Regions from separate parts of the Homo sapiens genome. Here region 1 is linked to region 2. Evidence: fine-mapped expression QTL. A gene starts in region 2. The other region holds a variant in brackets. All regions are shown on one strand. Distances are between the middles of the regions.

Region 1 (8,000 bases), 74 kb before region 2:
GACTCTGTCTCAAAACAAAAAACAAAACAAAACAAAAACCCCTTAATTGCTATAGTGCTTTCCGTTGTATCAAAAACTTAAAAGTTATATCAGTTTACCACCCAAATCTTAGATATTATGATTGAACTACTTCAAATAACATATTTTTTTATTCAGATAAATAAAACAATAATACACTGTCTTGCATTTTTAGTGCTAAAATAAAGATTAAACATGTGGCTTGTGCAATTGGAATTTGGCATAACTTCATTTTTTTCATATGTTGAAGGCCTCCAAAATGAAATAGTCCCAAGGCTTGTTGAGGGCAGCAAGAGCTGTCAGTGCATCTCGCCTCATGATCCTAAGCCTAAGAGGATCAGGTTTTAACCCCATCCCAACTCACATAACGATTTCCTTCCGTGTCTGCTCCAGCATCATGTACTGTGTCCACTCCTGTTCACTCTCATATGTCTTAGACTGATCCACGATCTTTTGGAACATCGTCCTCTTCCTACAAAACATATCAGTCTAGTAAAGGGAGCAAGTCTTAGAATAAGGCAACACCTGAGCTGCTAACATTGGCTGATTCAGATGGAGCCTTATTAAATCAACAAAATTCACAAAACAAGGTTGAAAGAGCCAAGGCCCAGGAGTGAAGACCTAGGTTTAACCTAAGTCTCTGCCACTGATTTGTTATCTACTCTTAGCAAATCTCTTGTCCTGAATCTCAGTGTTCCCATCTGTACAGCGGGGGTAATGATATCTAACTCACAGGCTTGTAGCAAGAATCAATGTGTCCATAACACACGTGTTGTGCCTGACACATAGTATATGCTAAATTAATTGGAACTATGATGTTTGTTATTATTATTGTTATTATATTGTTGCTGGGTGCAGTGGCTCATGCCTGTAATCCCAATACTTTGGGAGGCTGAGGCAGAAGGATGGCTTGAGACCAGGAGTTTTAGATCAGCCTGGGTAACATAGTGAGAACCCATCTTTACAGCAAATTAAAAAATTATCCAGGAGTGGTGGTGTTCCTGTAGTCCCAGCCACTCAGGAGGCTGAGGTGGGAGGATCCCTTGAGCCCAGGAAGCAGTGAGCTGTGATGGTGCCACCGCACTCTAGCCTGGGCAACAGAGTGAGATCCTGTCTCAAAAAAGAAAAAAAAAAAATATATATATATATATACACACACACATATATATGTGTAGATATATGTGTATATATATGTGTATATATATGTATATATGTGTATATATGTGTATATATGTATATATGTGTATATATGTATATATGTGTATATATGTATATATATGTGTGTATATATGTGTATATATGTATATATGTGTGTATATATATGTGTATATATGTATATATATGTGTGTATATATATATATGCATACATATAATCATTGTTGCTTTTACTATTAGAATGAGAAGATATACCAACTTGAAATACAGGGCGAGGTCTGTGGCAATGATTGCAATGTCCATCATGTGGATGGCATGCTCATGCTGTCGACGATTGAGGTTTTGAAAGATATTCAGGCTCTAAAGAAAAAAAGAGAAGCGAGATGGGAGAGAATTGATGCTGGCAGTAAAGTCACCCACCTACCAATGGCCACCCCAGATGATGGCAGAGGCAGCCCAGGCCAATGGGAAGAATGCTCCCTGGGCACACTCAGGCTCCTTGTGAAATAGAGCCTCTGATCCAGGCCCCGCGGCCTGTAGACCCTTGGCCCTCATCCTACCTCGTCTCTGAGCAGTGTTTTGCCAAACTCCAAGTGGTGTCTTTCCAAGATAGAGGACCCATGGAGCTTGGCCAGTGGGTTCTGGGATCTGAATGAGAAAGAGAGAGAATCAATATGGAGTGGACAATAGAAAATTAGGACTAAACATCAAGTCTCCTGACTCAGTCTTCAGCCTTCTCCACAAGTGATTCCGAGTTACTTTTGGGTCGTGAACTCATTAGAGAATCTACTAAATAGCATGGACCCCTTCCCCAGAGAAAGCCACAAACACACACAATGCCATAAGGGATTTTAGGGACATTAGCACTGGGCCATGCTTCAAGATCATCTAGCCCTGATTCTTCACATCCAAGTCTTGAAGGAAACAACTGAATTTCCGCAAGCCGTGTATTTATTCATTTCTGCATTCAATAATTATTTGTTGAGCACTTGCTATGTGCCACACACTGTGCTAAGTATTTAGATTCTCAAAATGTAAAATGTAAACCCAATCTCTAGCCCCAGAGCAGCATGAAAGTATTGAGAAGACTCAGCAGCATGAATTCAGAGCTTGTTAATGACTTACAGGCCATCGGCCCTGAGCGGAGACTCAGTTTTCTCATCTGTAAGTAGGGATAACATTAGCCCCTGCTCTGCCCAGCCCACTGGGTGGTTGTGAGGATCCAATGAGATCATGGTTCAAGGACTATGCTTTATGGGCTGTCTGAAATATAAGCTCTGTAAGGACAGGAGCTGTTTTGCTCATCAGAGCACCTTTTTTGCCTGGCATAGAGCCTACCACACTATATTAGAAGCACTGTAAATACGAGATGAGTGAATGAACCATTACTGGTTATTAACATCTTGGCTCAAATTAGTGCAGCAGGTAGGACAAGGAAGGAGACAAGTACAGGAGTTTAATGCATTCATTTTCTATGGCTGCTATAACAAACTGCCACAAACTTAATGGCTTAAAGCAATAAAATTTATTATTTTACAGCTCTGTATGGAGTCTGAAATGGGTCCTTAGGGCTGCTTTCCTTCTGGAAGCTCCAGAGGAGAATCCGTTTCCTTGCTCTTTTGAGCTTCTAGAGGCCACCTGCATTCCTTGCTTGTAGGCCATGCCTCCATCTTCAAAGCCAGCAGGGTAGCATCTTCTTTCCTCTCTGACCTCTTGCTTCCCTCTTATAAGGACCATTGGGACTACATGGGGCCCACTCGAATGAATAATCCCTGTATCTCAAGATCCTCGACTTAATCACATCTGCACAGTCCCTTTTGTATGTAAGGCAACATATTCCCCAGCTCAGGGATTTGAGATCTGGACATCTTTGTGGTGGTCATTATTCTGCCTGCTACAGGAGGAGACCCGGATCCCAAGGGCAGAAGGCGGTGGGAAGCTGTGGACCACAAGACTTCCCTGTTGGCCAGTGAGTCTGCCTGGGAGCCACACAGAGCTGGATAATGAATCCGGAGGGTTGGGTGTGGGGAGGGAGGCTGACTCACTTCATCTGGTAGAGGTTATTGGTGCCTCTGTGGTCAATGTCATGGCAGAAAGCAGCAGTGACCATGGCCAAGGCCTCTAGGTCCGTGAAGTAGCGCTTCAGCTTTCCCGTCTGGAAGGGCAATCAGAGTGCAAATCATTCCTTTTGTGTAGGGGCTGGAAGCAGGGCTGAAAAGGCGGGTGTAAGGAGGAGGGCCCAGAACTAAAAAACTCATGGGTCTGATCTTGGCTGTATCCTGGCTCCAGAGGCTGACCAGAGGACTGCCCAGGGCTGAGGGGTTTTTTGGATATGGGACTTTCAGTGCTAGAATGGGGAAAGTCCCAGGTAAATGGGAACAACTGGTCACCCTATTTCTGAGTTGACCTTAGCTGGTCTCATCTCCCTCTGAACCTCGGTAGCCCAATCTCCATAATGAGGGTCGAGCATATTGGATCAGATGAATTTTGAGAAACTTGTAGAAGTCAGGTTTTAGGATTTGGAGAGTTTCTGAACATGGCCAGGCTGGTAAAGCAAATCTTCCAAACGTGGTCTACTGGTTTAAGCACAGCCTGGAGGAATCCTTCCCTGGGATTTTGCCAGACACTTAACTCCTTGTTGATGCTGGGTGTTGAAACCAAATGTGGGAAAGTGCTCTGGAGAGCTGATGCTGACTTTATGAAAGCAATCACTCTAAGTGGTGTTCCTGTCACCCTTTAAGGTAGCCTGGTCAGAATTCCTGCTTCCGGGCCCTAGCACCTACTCTGGCCTGACCATTTCAGCCAAGGGGGAAGGGATGATGTTGAGGAAGGGCAGGGATTTGCATCATGATCTGGATGGGGAAATAACTTGAAATAAAACATAAAAGTCTCCGAACCCTCTCAGTGAAAAATACGAACACAAATACACAAAGATAAGTCCATCCAAGGATATTGTGGCACTGTTTGTAATAGTGAAAGATTGAAAAGACTTCCAAGTCCAACAATAGAACACTATGCAGCCACAAAATTGTATCATGGATAAGCCTCAAAAATGTTATGTTAAGTGAAATATGCCAGACACGAAAGGACGAATACTGTATGATTTCACCTCACTGTATATGAGGTGCATAGAATAGTCAAGATGAAAGAAACAAAAAATAAGACAGGGCCAGGCATGGCAGGTCACACATGGCAGCACTTTGGGAGGCCAAGGTAGGAGGACCACTTGAGCCTAAGAATTCAAGATCAGCTTAGGCAACACAGCCAGACCCTGTCTCTACAAAACTAAAAATTTATGTGGACATGGTGGCACATACCTGTGGTCTCGGCTACCTGGTGTTAGTCCCAACTGCACCATTTTGTAAGCTCCCCATTATTTTGCAGACCTTGGTCAAAGTGAAACATTTCATGGGGGTTTGGGTCGGGAGAAACAGCCTTCCTAACCACCTGACCACAAGGCAGACAAAGGCCCAACTAAAGAAACATTCCTATCATATCTTGCTGGGCAAAAGTCCAAGAAACACCACAATGGCATCCCACCGAGACAAAAGCAAAACCGCCTCATCATGAGAACATCTTATCAATAGCCTGCCAGGCAACAAGCCATACTGCCCAGACCCCTCCCGCCCATACCTATAAGTACCACCAGCCTGTAAGCAGCGGTGGGCTCTGGCATTAGGCTGGTTCCTACTTCTGTAGATTTTATGCTGGGCGTAAAGCCTGCATTTGCTCTTGAGCCGCCCTCTTTCTGTGTGTGTGTGTGTGTGTGTCTTTCTTTAACCCTCGCCTTCCCTTCAAAACCTAACATGTGGGAGG[G/C]TGAGGTGGGAGGATCGCTTGAGCCCAGGAGGTCAAGGCTGCAGTGAGCCGTGTGTTCTCAGCACTGCACTCCAGCCTGTGTGACAGAGCAAGATCATATCTCAAAAGTAAAAAAAGATCTAAGAGGATAGAGATTAAATGTTGCCTCCTCTACAATTTCTTATTACCAAGAGACTAAAAATATTTGGGACTGTTACTAAAAATTTTCTGTGCCACAGTGACAGATTGTACTATGGGGAACTACATGCTTCTAGAAATTATTATTCACAGACGATTGATCTACAGATTGCTGGTGTGACAGACAGTTCACAATTTTTGCTTGCTTCCTAGTGTTCACTGGAAATTAAGGTCACTAAGGGTTAAGAATTCTAATTAATATAAGGATATATTAACATATATTAATATATATTTCTTTATTTAGAATTCTTAACACATAATTAATATGTTATTTATAATATATTAATAACTAATAATTAATATATTATTAATAAAATAATAAGGGAAACAATTCTATAAGCAATTATACAAGAGGGCAAAAACTGCTTTTGGTAAGAAAAAGCTATAAGATATGAGGATGTTTTATTTTGTTAAGGGTGAAAAGAGAAACTTTTGTCCTAATGTAGGATAACTGGTTACTCCAAAATGAGAAGAGGAAAAAGTATAGGAAAAAGTTGAATGGATAAGAAAGTTGTAGAAGGCTTGTGGAAGATAAATCTTGTGAAAGTAATTGTATGTGTGATGAAGCTGGCTAAGATTGGAAGAAAATGGCTGGGTGCGGTGGCTCACGCCTGTAATCCCAGCACTTTGGGAGGCCGAGGCGGGCGGATCACGAGGTCAGGAGATCGAGACCATCCTGGCTAACACAGTGAAACCCCGTCTCTACTAAAAATACAAAAAATTAGCCAGGCATGGTGGCGGGCGCCTGTAGTCCCAGCTACTCGGGAGGCTGAGGCAGGAGAATGGCGTGAACCCGGGAGGCAGAGCTTGCAATGAGCTGAGATGTGCCACTGCACTCCAGCCTGGGCGACAGAGTGAGACTCTGTCTCAAAAAAAAAAAAAAAAAGATCAGAAGAAAATTGTTTGAAGTTTTTCTAAAATTTTGAAATTAATGCTATCTTGAACATTGATGTCAAAAGTACACTGATGCAAAACTAGAACTTGGACCTCTCTTTTAAAACAACAAATTTTCTTTGAGTATTGGTCTGCTGTTAACAGGAAATTTATCTTTTAGGTAATTGACCTAGGAAACAAAGATTCTGTGCTTTACCAAATTAATTTCCTGTACTCCAGGTTGCCTTTATTAGGTTTTTGATCACTTAAGAAAACTGTTTTCTTTATTAAAAGAGCTAAGGTCTTTCTATAAGTATTTAACTTTCTGTATTTTTATTTATTTATTTATTATTTATCTTATTTTATTTTTGTTTTGAGACAGAGTCTCGCTCTGTCACCCAGGCTAGAGTGCACTGGTGCAATCAAAACTCACTGCGGTTTGGACCTCCTGGGCTCAAGCAATCCTCCCATCTCAGCCTCCTGAGTAGCTGGGACTACTGGCGCATGCCACCACACTAGGCTAAATTATCTTATTTTGGGCTGGATGCAGTGGCTCATGCCTGTAATCCCAGCACTCTGGGAGGCTGAGGCAAGCGGATAACTTGAGGTCAGGAGTTCGAGATCAGCCTCGGCAACATGGTGAAATATCGTCTCTACTAAAAGTACAAAAAGTTAGCTTGGCCCGGTGGCACGCACCTGTAATCCCAGTTACTGGGGAGGCTGAGACAGGAGAATCGCTTGAACCCAGGAAGCAGAGGTTGCAGTGAGCTGAGATCATGCCACTGCACTCCAGCCTGGGTGACAGAACAAGACTCTGTCTCAAAAAAAAAAAAAAAATTCAAGCATTTAGAAACTTCCCAAAGTCATATTCATTTTTTTTTTTTTTTTGAGACAGAGTCTTGCTTTGTTGTCCAGGCTGGAGTGCAGTGGCACGATCTCAACTCACTGCAACCTCTGCCTCCCAGATTCAAGTGATTCTCCTGCCTCACCCTCCTGAGTAGCCGGGATTACAGACACACCACCACACTAGGCTAATTTTTAAAATATTTTTGGTAGAGATGGGGTTTCACCATGTTGGGCAGGCTAGTCTTGAACTCCTGACCTCAAATGATCCACCTACCTCAGTCTCCCAAAGTGCTGAGATTACAGGCATGAGCCACTGCGTCTGGCCCCAAAATCATATTCTAAATTAAGTATTTTTCTTGACTGCAAATTAACTTTGGAATTTTTCAGATGAACCCTTAGAACATCTCAAAAAGATATCTCTTCTTGTAAAAAGAGAGACATTAAACTAATTAGGCTTATTTTATATATTAAATTATATGGGAAGCATTGTCAAATACAATTAATGCTAAATCTTCAAGTTGTATTCTAAAGATGTGTTATTAATATGTGTTTCAGAAACTGTATAAAATTCATAGAAATCTAGTATTCCTGGTATAACACTATCAGTCACAATTTTAGTTATTGTCTTAAAATGTTTGCAACGGAAATAACCAAATTTCCTTGTCAATTGTGTCATTATTGTAATGAACTCTCATGAGATCTTTAACCATGACCATGTAAAGTCTTGTCATCCACAGGTGGTTTTTCACTCTGCTACTTTCCTGAGCAACTCTAAGCCTAAAGTGTTTCTTCTTCATAAGATCATACCATTGGACTGGGGAAGAATTTCCAGAATTCCAGTGAAGAAACTGGTTCATAAAACTGCTAACTCAGTATTAAGCAGAATAAAAAATAATTGAAAATTAAAACAAATGATTTGGCAGATTTTTATGCTAAGTCAGCCAGTACTGAAATTGGTGAGATATACAATTTTAATGAACTCCAAACATTGATCCAAGTCAAGTTACCTATGATAACCTATTTAATAAACAGTGCTATGCACCTGAATTGGAGAAATGAAATTGGTATTTAAAAGGATGTAAATCCAATGTTAAGTGTGGACTCATAAGGAGTCC
Region 2 (10,797 bases):
TCTAGCCCCGATTCTGTCCCAACTCTAGCCACTATCTAGAGTCACATTGCATCTCTCTGAGAGATCCCAAGCCAGAACCACCCTGCAAGCCTTTGCCAAATTCCTGACCCACAGAAACTGAGAAAAAAATAAAAAGATTATTGTTGCTTTAAGCTTCTACCTTTTGGAGTGATTTATTCAGCAATAGAGAGAAAGCAGCTCTGTATGCACTGATATAAAATAATCTTCACCACATAATTTTTAAAAAGCAACAGAATGGTATGTATTCTATGCCCTTCTTGTTTAAAAAATATATAGGGAGAGTCTTATATATGCATACAATAGTGGTTTGCCAACCTAGGTGTGCTTAGAATCTCTAGTGGGGCTGGGAGCTGTGGCTCACACCTGTAATCCCAATACTTTGGGAGGACAAGGTGAGAGGATTGCTTGAGTCAGGAGTACAAGGCCAACCTGGGCAACATAGCAAGACTCCACCTCTACAAAAAATACAAAAATTAGCCAGGTGTGGTGGCACATGCTTGTAGTCCCAGTTACTTGGGAAGCTGAGGTGGAAAGATCACCTGAGCCTGGGGCAGTTGAGGCTGCAGTGAGCCATGATTGCACCACTGTACTCCAGCGTGGGCAACAGAGTGAGACCCTCTTTCAAAAAAAAAAAAAAAAAAAGGAAAAAGAAAAAAAGAATATCCTGGATAGCTTTTTTTATCTTTTATTTTTAAAATTTATTTTTATTTTAGATTCAGGGTGTACATGTGCTTGTTTGTTACATGGGTATATACATACTGGAGGGAATTGGGTTTCTAGTGTACCCAATACCCAAATACTCAAATAGTGAACATTGTACCCAACAGGTAATTTTTCTTTTTTTTTTTTTGAGACAGAGTTTCACTCTTTAGCCCAGGCTGGAGTAAAGTGGCATGATCTGGGCTCACTGTAACCTCCGCCCCTCGGGTTCAAGTGATTTTCCTGCCTCAGCCTTCCAAGTAGCTGGGATTACAGGTGGCCGCCACCACGCCTGGCTAATTTTTGTATTTTTAGTAGAGACGAGGTTTTACCATGTTGGCCAGGCTGGTCTCAAACTCTTGACATCAGGTGATCCACCCGTCTTGGCCTCCCAAAGTGCTGGGATTACAGGCGTGAGCCACCACGCCCAGCCCCGACAGGTAATTTTTCAACCCTCGTGCTCCTCTTTTGGAGTCTCCAGTATCTGTAATTTCCATCTTTATGATCTTATGTACCCATTGTTTAGTTCCCACTTATAAGTGAGAACATGTGTCTTTGGTTTTCTGTTTCTGAGTTGTTTTTCTTAGGATAATGGCCTTCGGCTCCACCCATATTGCTGCAAAGGACGTGATTTTGTTCTTTTTTATGGCTGCATGGCAGGCTTTTAAAAACTATCAATGTCTGAGTCAATACCAATAAAAGTATATCTGGTAGTAGGACCTAAACATTACCATTTTTTTAAAAGTTCCCCAAGAGACTCTTTTTTTTTTTTTGAGATGGAGTTTTGCTCTTGTTGCCCAGGCTGAAGTGCAATGTTGCAGTCTCGGCTCACTGCAACCTCCACCTCCTGGGTTCAAGTGATTCTCTTGCCTCAGCTTCCTGAGTAGCTGAGATTACAGGCACCCACTGCCACACCCGGCTAATTTTTTGTATTTTTAGTAAAGACAGCGTTTCACCATGTTGGCCAGGCTGGTCACGAACTCCTGACCTTGTGCAGAACTGAGAACTGCTGGTATAGAATAAACCTGGAAAGCAACACAGGAAAATGGGTGCTGTGTTTGCCTCTAGAAAGGTACACCAGGGTAAGAATAGGCTATGAGGAAGATTTACTTTTTACTGTAAACCCTTGACCTTTTTAATTTGTTTACTTTGTGTTACCTATTTCCAAGAACAATCAAGCTAACATTTTACAAAATGTTTTGCAAAAAAGTAAAATGGCCCAGGCATGGTGTCTCATGCCTGTAATCCCAATACTTTGGGAGGCCAAGGTAGGAGGATCACTTCAGGCCAGGAGTTTGAGGCCAGGAGTTTGAGATCAGGCTGGGCAACATAGGGAGACCCCCATTTCTACAAAAAAATAAAAAATTAGCTGGGTGTGGTGGCGTTCGGCTGTGGTTCTAGACACTCAGGAGGCTAAGGTGGGAGGATCACTTGAGTCCAGCAGTTCGAGGTTAGAGGGATCTATAATTGCGCCACTGCACTCCAGCCTGGGTGACAGAGCAAGACCCTGTCTCTTAAAAAAAAAAAAAAAAAAAAAAAAAAAGACACTTATAGCAGTGAAAATGAAGCCTGAATAGCACACTAGGAATAGTTCATTCAATAGTGGGAATCCAGTGGGAGTTCAAGGTCCAGTGGGGCCTCAGAGGAAGTGACTAGTCCCACCTGGGAAGAATGGGTGGTCAGGAATGCTGAGGAGGTAAATCCTGAAGTGGCCCCAACCTGAAAGGACTTATTTGCTGGCCCACCATGCCTCCAGTGCATACATCATTAGTTACGCTTTGGAAAAGCTGTTTGGGAAGAGTAATGGCTATAAAATGTGGCCCTCCGGCTGCCAGTCACCTCTGTGAACCCTGAGACCAACAGGAGGGAAAAAATGCCCAGGCTAGGAGGCGTAAAGAGATCCAAGTGCTGCTGATGTGATGTCATCGAGGAAAAGCTAATTATTGGCCAGCTTTCCAGTAGCAGGGATTTAGTTATTCACCCCCACCCCCCACCCCACCCCTCCACCCGCTGCCTTTGATTCCTGTTGTGGAGCACTGGAACATCGGTGAAGGGAAAGTAGCATGGCAGACCAAAGTCTGGCTCCATGGAGCTCCTTGGGATGTGTGTGTGGAGATCAGCGAGGGACCACAACAGTAAACAGCAGCCAGGGATGCTGAACTAGGAGGCAGAGAGGCACCAATGGCCAACCTAAAGCTTCTTTACTAGCACCTTCTCCTGGCCCCGGGCCATAGCTTGCATGTTCTTGGGTGCTGGCATGTCACAGCTCCCAGGTCAAAATCCACCTCCATCCCATCTCAAAATCTACTGCTTGTTAGCTGAATAAACTTGGTAAGTAATACTATTCTGAGCCCCAATTTCTTCGTCTGTGATGCAGATGAATATGTATGAAATAAAATCAAAGAATGATAGGCAGTATTAAATTTGACTGGTCTGGTTTTTTATTTTTGCTTTTGTTTTTATTTTTGAGATGGGGTCTCACTCTGTCACCCAGGCCGGAGTGCAGTGGCACGATCTCGGCTCACTGCAACCTCTGTCTACTGGGCTCAAGCTGTCCTCCCACCCCAGCCTCCTGAGTAGCTGGGACTACAGGCACATGCTACCATGCCTGGCTACTTTTTTCTATTTTTGGTAGAGTTGGAGTTTCACCATGTTGTCCAGGCTGGTCTCTAACTCCTGAGCTCAAGTGGCTTATAGGCATGAACCACCATGCCCGGCCAAATTTGGCCAATCTTTATTGGTGCCTGTTATATGCAAGGTCCTGGCTTCCCCACACAGACAAGAAAACAAACAAATAAATGAATAAATGTCAGCTGCAAGGATTGGAGTGGATTCTTGCATTTGCATAGCACAGTGAGTGTAGTGGTTAAGAGTGGGCTTTGCAGTCAGACGTGACTGTGTTAAAATCATGCTACTGTCACTTATTAACTGTGGGACGTTGGGCAGATCACCTAACATCTCTGAGCCTCATTTCCTCACCAAAAAAAAGAAGAATCATAATATGGCACCTCCTCTAAAGCTGTTGTGAGGATTAACTCATGTAATGAATGTGAAGAGTTCTGCGCAGGCACGTGATAAACATCCAGAAACTGTTTATTCTGCTTGTTGTGCAGTCTTTAGGGCTTAAACAAAGTACTTTACACTGATTGCCTTACCTGACCCTCTCCAGGACTCTGGGTGCTAGGGCATTAACTACCCTTTGAAAGGTGAAAACATTGATGCCCATTGAGGTGAAATGATTTGTCTTCAGCCACAAGGGGCAGCATCAGGAGTAGAACCCAAGTGTTTGTGTTCTGATTCCCAAGACAGCTTATGACGTTTTGGAAACTCTGAATCTGATGGGTGACAGAAACTTGGGGATCATCTCTAGATAAGAAAGGGAGTTCCTTGAATGACTGTGAAGACGTTCACCGGAAAGGGAAGGAAAGGAAGTTAATCATGCTTCCTTCACAGGCCCTCCTTCACCCCCATCTAGTGGGCACATGCAAGCTACAAACAAGGTGAGGAATGAACAAATTAATACATACTCAATAGTGGCCAGTTCGAGGCAGATAATTAAATCAAGATGACCTGAAAGGATGTGACTGGCTGTGGCTAGTTTACACAGGGTGGTCAGGGACGGCCTCGCCATGGAGAGGGCTGGTGTTTTGGCTGAGACCTGAGAGACCAGAAGAAATCTGATGGCCAGAACCAATGTTTAGGTCCCTAAAGAGAACAAGCGTGGCGAGCAAAGGGGGCCAGTATGGGTGGAGATCAGCGAGGGAGGGGGGCAGAGATGAGTGCCCGAAGCACACAGTACCTTGGCATAGGGAGGGTTTGATTTTACCTACAAATGCCATTAAACCCACTAAGGATTTTAACAAAAACTACAATTACATTTTAATTTACATTTTATGTTTTATAGAGACAAGGTTCGGCTATACTGCCCAGGTTGATCTCGAACCCCTGGGTTCAAGCGATCCTCCCTACTCGGTCCCCCAAAGTGCTGGGATTACAAGCGTGAGCCGCTGCGCCCGGCCTTTTAATTTACATTTTAGCCTTCCGGTTACTGGAATCTTTGATGGGGAATGAGTTATAGTGAGGCAAGAGCCTCTAACATTCTAGGAGCTCTTTTCCCGTTCGGGGCCTCAATTTCCCGTTCTACAAAGGCGGGTGGGAGGGAACGGGGTCCCAAGTAGTACTGGATAAAGAGGTGGCCGATCGCAAACGCTGAGCACTTCAAAACTCTGGGCAGAGCGCTTCCGCGCCTCTCCTGCTATTTCACCCTGGCCACAGGCTAGCCGCCGAGGCCGGTCATCCGCTCTCTCCGCGGAGGAGTCAACGCCACGGAAGCAGCGGCGGAACCTCTCTAAGAATCCTTCCAGCTTGTGCTCTTCTGTCCAGGGCAGCCAATCGCGAGGAGGAGAGTAGTCAGAGGGCGGCACCCTCCCCGGTCTGGGCCGAGTTATTGGCTGGTGGTAGCGTCGCTCGCCCGGCAGTACCACGTGACGGCCTCGGCCGCGGGCGTTTACACTGGCTCTGCCTCCGGCATCTCTTCGCCGGTGCGTCCTCGCCGCGCCCGTAGGTCCCGGCAGCCGGGCCCCGCCTCCTTCGGAGTCCGAGCGATGGGCGGGGAAAGGGACAGGCAGGTATAGCTCTGTCGGCGCCGCGGTGTCCACCTCAGTCAGGCCACGGTGGAAGACGCGTGCCGCGGCGCCTGGTTGCCTGCAGCGGCCCGGACCCGAGAGGTGAGAAGAGGGAAGCGGACCAGGGAAGAGGGAGGGAGCGGTGCTGGCCGCCAAGCGGTCAGCGGGCCCCTCCCAGAGTCATTCTGCCTGGGTCCCCGCGCGGTAGAATCCCAGATCAGGGGTCGCCGCCGTGGAGCGGGGCGTGCGTCAGGTTATTTCCCGGGTGGTCCGGGGCCGGGCGAGTGGCACTGCACCCTGGTGATCCGGGCCTGCCCGTCTGGCTGGCGGCTGCCCACCCGCCCTCCATCCCGCGTATCTCGCCGTATCTCGCCGGGTGCCACGCACTCCGCTGCTTTTCCAGTCCTCGTTGATCCGTCTCGAACCTAGATATCTGGAATAGGGATCGAGGAGATAGGAGCCACCACCACCTCGGACAGATGGGGAAACTGAGGCCGGCACAGGCGAGACGGCTTGGTTATCTTGGTTATTAAAAATCACACACCCGATTAAGTACAAAATCAGGACCTGTTCTTTCGGACTCACACACTAAGTTGGTATTATTTCACTGGATGGATGGAAACACTGAGAAGACAGAGAGGGCCCAGAGCCTTGCCTAAAAATACACAGCAAGTCTTTTGCAGAGCTAGGACTTGTACCCAGCTCTCCAAACTCATAGACTATCAGCCTGGGCTCCTTCCTTGCACAGATTGGGGATCACAGTGAGTTAGAAACATTCAGAACTTAAATTGCCTTCCGGCGCCCATTCTAGTTAACCTGTCTTTTCTCCTTGTCCCCAACAGTTCTTTATGTGAAATCTACAACTAATGTGATATGCAATACTAGATTAAGCAGAACTTTTTGTTTTTGAAAATTGAATCAATAAGAAATGGAGGGCCAAAGCTGTGGGAAAGGAATGGACCCTTTAAAATCAGGAATCTCAAGGCAGGATATAGCAAGGGACAGAGACTAATAGCTGTCGTTTATTGAGTAAATGCTATGTGCCAGGCACTGTGGTAGGTAGTTGTGTTAGCCTTACAAACCAGCAAGTTAGGTAATGTTACCCCATTTTACAGGTCAGAAATTGATGCTGAGTACAGTGAAGTTTTACAAAACCATTGCCATATGACTGCTGAGCAGTATAGCTGGGATCTGAACAGAGATCTGTTTGACTTCCAGAACACATCCAGTGATTCTCCAAGTGTGGTCCTAAGCTCACTCGTTCAGCATCATCTAGCGTGTGGAGTCCTGGATCTCATCCTTGGATTTGCAGGGATGGTCCTAAGAAGCTAACGGCTCTCTGTATTTGACAATTATTGTACTGTAATGTGCTGCCTCCTAGGGGAAGATCTAGAGGTGAACATACTCTGGGCTAGGGGTAATTTTTGAGGGAAAAAAATCACTTTTTTTTAATTTCTGATTTGACTTTTTTTTTTTTTGAGACCAGGTCTTACTCTGTCATCCGGGCTAGGAGTGCAGGGGCGCGATCTAGGCTCACTGCAGCATTGACCTCGTGGGTTCAAGCAAACCTTCCACCTCAGCTTCCTGAGTAGCTGGAACCACAGGTGCACGCTGCCATACCTGGCTAGTTTTTGTAGTTTTTGTAGAGATGGTGTTTCACCATGTTGCCCAGTCAGGTTTCAAACTCCTGAGCTCAAGCAATCCTCCTGCCTTGGCCTTCCAAAGTGCTGGGATTACAGGCATGAGCCACTGTGCCCTGCCCACACTTTTATTTTTTATTTTCCCCCATGATTGACAGAAGGATAATCACGCTTTTAGTGAATGTAAACCCCCAGGCAGATGCTTGCCAAGCTTAATTTCTTGACATAAGCTTGGTTTTGGCATGTGGGGGCGGAAGAGTGGGGTTGGAGAGTTAAGTGAGAATGGGGAAAGTAACTCCTTTTTCCTTATCATATAGCTGTTAAATTCTAATTCACTCAACAGATACTTGCTAAGCATTTATTAGGTGCAAGACATGTTCAAGACACTGAGAATACAGCTTTGAACAAAACAGAGCAAGTCAGTGCCCTCATGTGAAAGACAATTAACAATGTGTGGTATGGAATGGTGAGAAGAGCTATGGAGAAAAATAAAGGGCATAGGAGTGCAAGGCAGGGCTGGGCCCAGGAGGAAGACATGGAAATGGCAGCAATGGCAGTGGTGCTATATTTATTTATTTATTTATTTATTTATTTATTTATTTATTTTTTGAGATGGAGTTTCACTCTTGTTGCCCAGGCTGGAGTGCGGTGGCGCCATCTTGGCTCACTGCAATCTCTGCCTCCTGGGTTCAAGTGATTCTCCTTTGTCAGCCTCCCAAGTAGCTGGGATTACAGGCACATGCCACCACGCCTGGCTAATTTTTTTTTTTTTCTTTTTTTGAGACAGAGTCTCACTTTGTCTCCAGGCCGGAGTGCAGTGGCGTGATCTTGGCTCACTGCAACCTCTGCCTCCCAGGTTCAGGTGATTCTCCTGCCTCAGCCTCCTGAGTAGCTGGGACCACAGGCATGTGCCACCACGTCCGGCTAATCTTTTTATTTTTAGTAGAGACGGGGTTTCACCATGTTGGCCAGGATGGTCTCAATTTCATGACCTCGTGATCCGCCTGCCTCCGCCTCCCAAAGTACTGGGATTACAAGCGTGAGCCACCGCGCCTGGCCTAATTTTTTGTATTTTTTAGTAGAGAGGGGGTTTCACCATGTTGGCCAGGCTGGTCTCGAACTCCTGGCCTCAGGTGATCCACCTGCCTTGGCCCCCCAAAGTGCTAGGATTACAGGCATGAGCCCCTGCACCCGGCCTGCTATTTTGCATATTTGTTTAACTTTTTTTTTTTTTTTTTTTTTTTTGTGGAGACAAGATCTTGCTATGTTACCCAGGCTGGTCTCGAACTCCTGGCCTCAAAGTGATCTTCCTGCCTTGGCCTCTCAAAGCGCTGGGATTACAGACATGAACCACTGTGCCTGGCCTCTGTTTTATATATTGTATCTAGGAAGGGACCGATTTATATAAGGTGTCATTTGAGGTTGGGCAATGAGCAAAGGCCCCAAGGGCAAAGGCTGCTTGATATTTTCATGGACTGGTGATTGGAACACTAGTGCATAGGAGGAAGCAAGACAGTGGCAGTTTTAGGCTCATGCATAGAAGCTTATACCAATGTTTTTAGACCATATTTGGTAGGAGATAGGGAGCCAGTGCAGATTTTTGGGGAGCATATCCAAATGGTTGACCTCATCTTGCTAATGAATGCTTCTTTTGAAGAAGAGGCATAGTGCTTTAAAAATGTAGGTTCAGGCTGGGCTCTTCCTTTGCTCATGCCTATAATCCCAGCAATTTGGGAGGCCGTGGCAGGCAGATCACTTGAGCTCAGGAGTTCAAGACCAGCCTGGACAACACGGCGAAAACCTGTCTCTACAAAAAATACAAAAAAATAGCTGGGCATGGTGGCGTGCACTTGTGATCCCAGCTACTCAGGATCGCTTGAGCCCAGGAGGTGGAGGTTGCAGTGAGCTGAGATCATGCCACTGCACTCCAGCCTGGGTAACAGAGTGAGACCCCATCTCAAAAATAAAAATAAAAAATAGCCAGGCGTGGTGGCTCACGCCTGTAATCCTAGCACTTTAGGAGGCCGAGGCGGGCGGATCACGAGGTCAGGAGCTCGAGACCATCCTGGCTAACACGGTGAAACTCTGTCTCTACTAAAAATACAAAAAATTAGCCAGGTGTGGTGGCGGGCACCTGTAGTCCCAGCTACTTGGGAGGCTTAGGCAGGAGAATGGCATGAACCCAGGAGGAGGAGCTTGCAGTGAGCCAAGATTGTGCCACTGCACTCCAGCCTGGGCAACAGAGTGAGACTCTGTCTCAAAAATAAAAAATTAAAAAAAAAATGTAGGTTCAATATTAGAGGAAACTGAGTGACCATTATACAGGAACTGTGTACTATTTTTACAGCTTTTCTGCAAGTCCACAGTTATTTCAAAATAAAAATTTTTTTTAAATGTAGGTTCAATAAAGTGTTTAAGGCTGAACTATGCCTGCAACTTTCAAATAGTTGAAAAACAATAATGACAAAACCCATATAAGTATGGAGAGAGAGTGTGTTAACATCTTATGAACTGTAAAATTGCTAAATAGGTGAATTGTTAGTATGGAAGTGTTCCATGTATCATTCTTTCAACTTTTCTGAAGATTTAAAAACAGCTTCAAAATAAGCAATCAAGCGACAGTATACGTTTGAATCAGGCAGGCTTGTTCAAGTCATGATTCCCCTACTTACAAGCTGTGTGTGGCTGGGCGCGGTGGCTCACGCCTGTAATCCCAGCACTTTGGGAGGCCGAGGCAGGCGGATCACAAGGTCTGGAGATGAGACCATCCTGGCCAACATGGTGAAACCCTGTCTCTACTAAAAATACAAAAATTAGCCGGGCATGGTGGCAGGCGCCTGTAGTCCCAGCTACTCAGGTGGCTGAGGCAGGAGAATCGCTTGAACCTGGGAGATGGAGGTTGCAGTGAGCCGAGATCACACCACTGCATTTCAGCCTGGGCAACAGAGCAAGACTCTGTCTCAAAAAAAAAAAAAAAAAAAAAAAGCTGTGTGAAGTATTGGAAAATTATTTCTAAACTACATATTCTAGTCTAGTTTATTTTTATTAAAAATATATTTTTAATTATTTTTTTTTCTTACACTGTAGCTCTTACCAGTCTAGTCTGAGATTTTTCCATATAAGAGAGGAGACTTACTTTGGTTGTTGACTTGTTCACATTAATGCTGGGTTAATGTTAAGACTTCAGGTTTTCCACAAACTTGAGATCTTTAGGTTGTTTTTAGGTCGACTCTAGTTTTCCTGTAATTATCTGATGTATATACACTTACAGAGACTGGCATAGGCAATCTATTAGAGGAAAAAGGTTAGGAGTCAGGATACTTGGGTTCTGGATCCATCTCTGCCTTTAAGTAGCAAATGATTTCACTAATCTGAACCTTTATTTATTTATTTTATTTTATTTTTTGAGACAGAGTCTTGTCTGTCACCTAGGCTAGAGTGCAGTGGCGCAATCTCAACTCACTGCAACCTCTGTCTCCTGGGTTCAAGTGATTCTTGTGCCTCAGCCTCCCAAGTAGCAGGGATTATAGGCATGTGCTACCACGCCTGGCTAATTTTTGGATTTTTAGTAGAGATAGAATTTCACCATGTGGGCCAGGCTGGTCTTGGACTCCTGAGCTCAAGTGATCCGCATGCCTCGGCCTTCCGAAGTGCTGAGATTATAGTTGTAAACCACTGGTACCCAGCTGAACTCTTATTTCTTACCAAAAAATCATGGCGGTTGGATTTCTTGATCTCTGTCTAGCTCTAAAGTCCTGTAATTCAGGAAAACTACCACTTAATGATTTGATCATTTAGTTTGAACTGTCTCA

Direction of the effects. Positions count from the first base shown, and alleles are read on the strand shown. Sizes are in standard deviations (SD) of each study's normalised expression.
With allele G in place of C in region 1, the expression in adrenal gland of the gene that starts at base 5,226 in region 2 is higher (small effect, 0.38 SD a copy in GTEx).

The links. PIP is the estimated chance that this variant, and not a neighbour inherited with it, causes the effect.
Region 1: its variant is fine-mapped to the expression of SLC26A2 in adrenal gland (GTEx, PIP 0.94).

The regions. Positions count from the first base shown.
Region 1 is chr5:149,883,047-149,891,046 of GRCh38, forward strand. It overlaps PDE6A (phosphodiesterase 6A), which reads right to left. Exons shown (of 22, transcript NM_000440.3): 14 at 3,219-3,328; 15 at 1,734-1,821; 16 at 1,433-1,533; 17 at 383-490. Among named protein-coding and RNA genes, the nearest start is that of PDE6A, 58 kb to the right of the region's middle. The variant G/C (reference allele first, on the strand shown) is at 4,990.
Region 2 is chr5:149,955,533-149,966,329 of GRCh38, forward strand. It overlaps SLC26A2 (solute carrier family 26 member 2), which reads left to right and starts at 5,226. Exons shown (of 3, transcript NM_000112.4): 1 at 5,226-5,447. RefSeq lists enhancers at 3,642-4,245, 4,042-4,121 and a silencer at 5,162-5,281.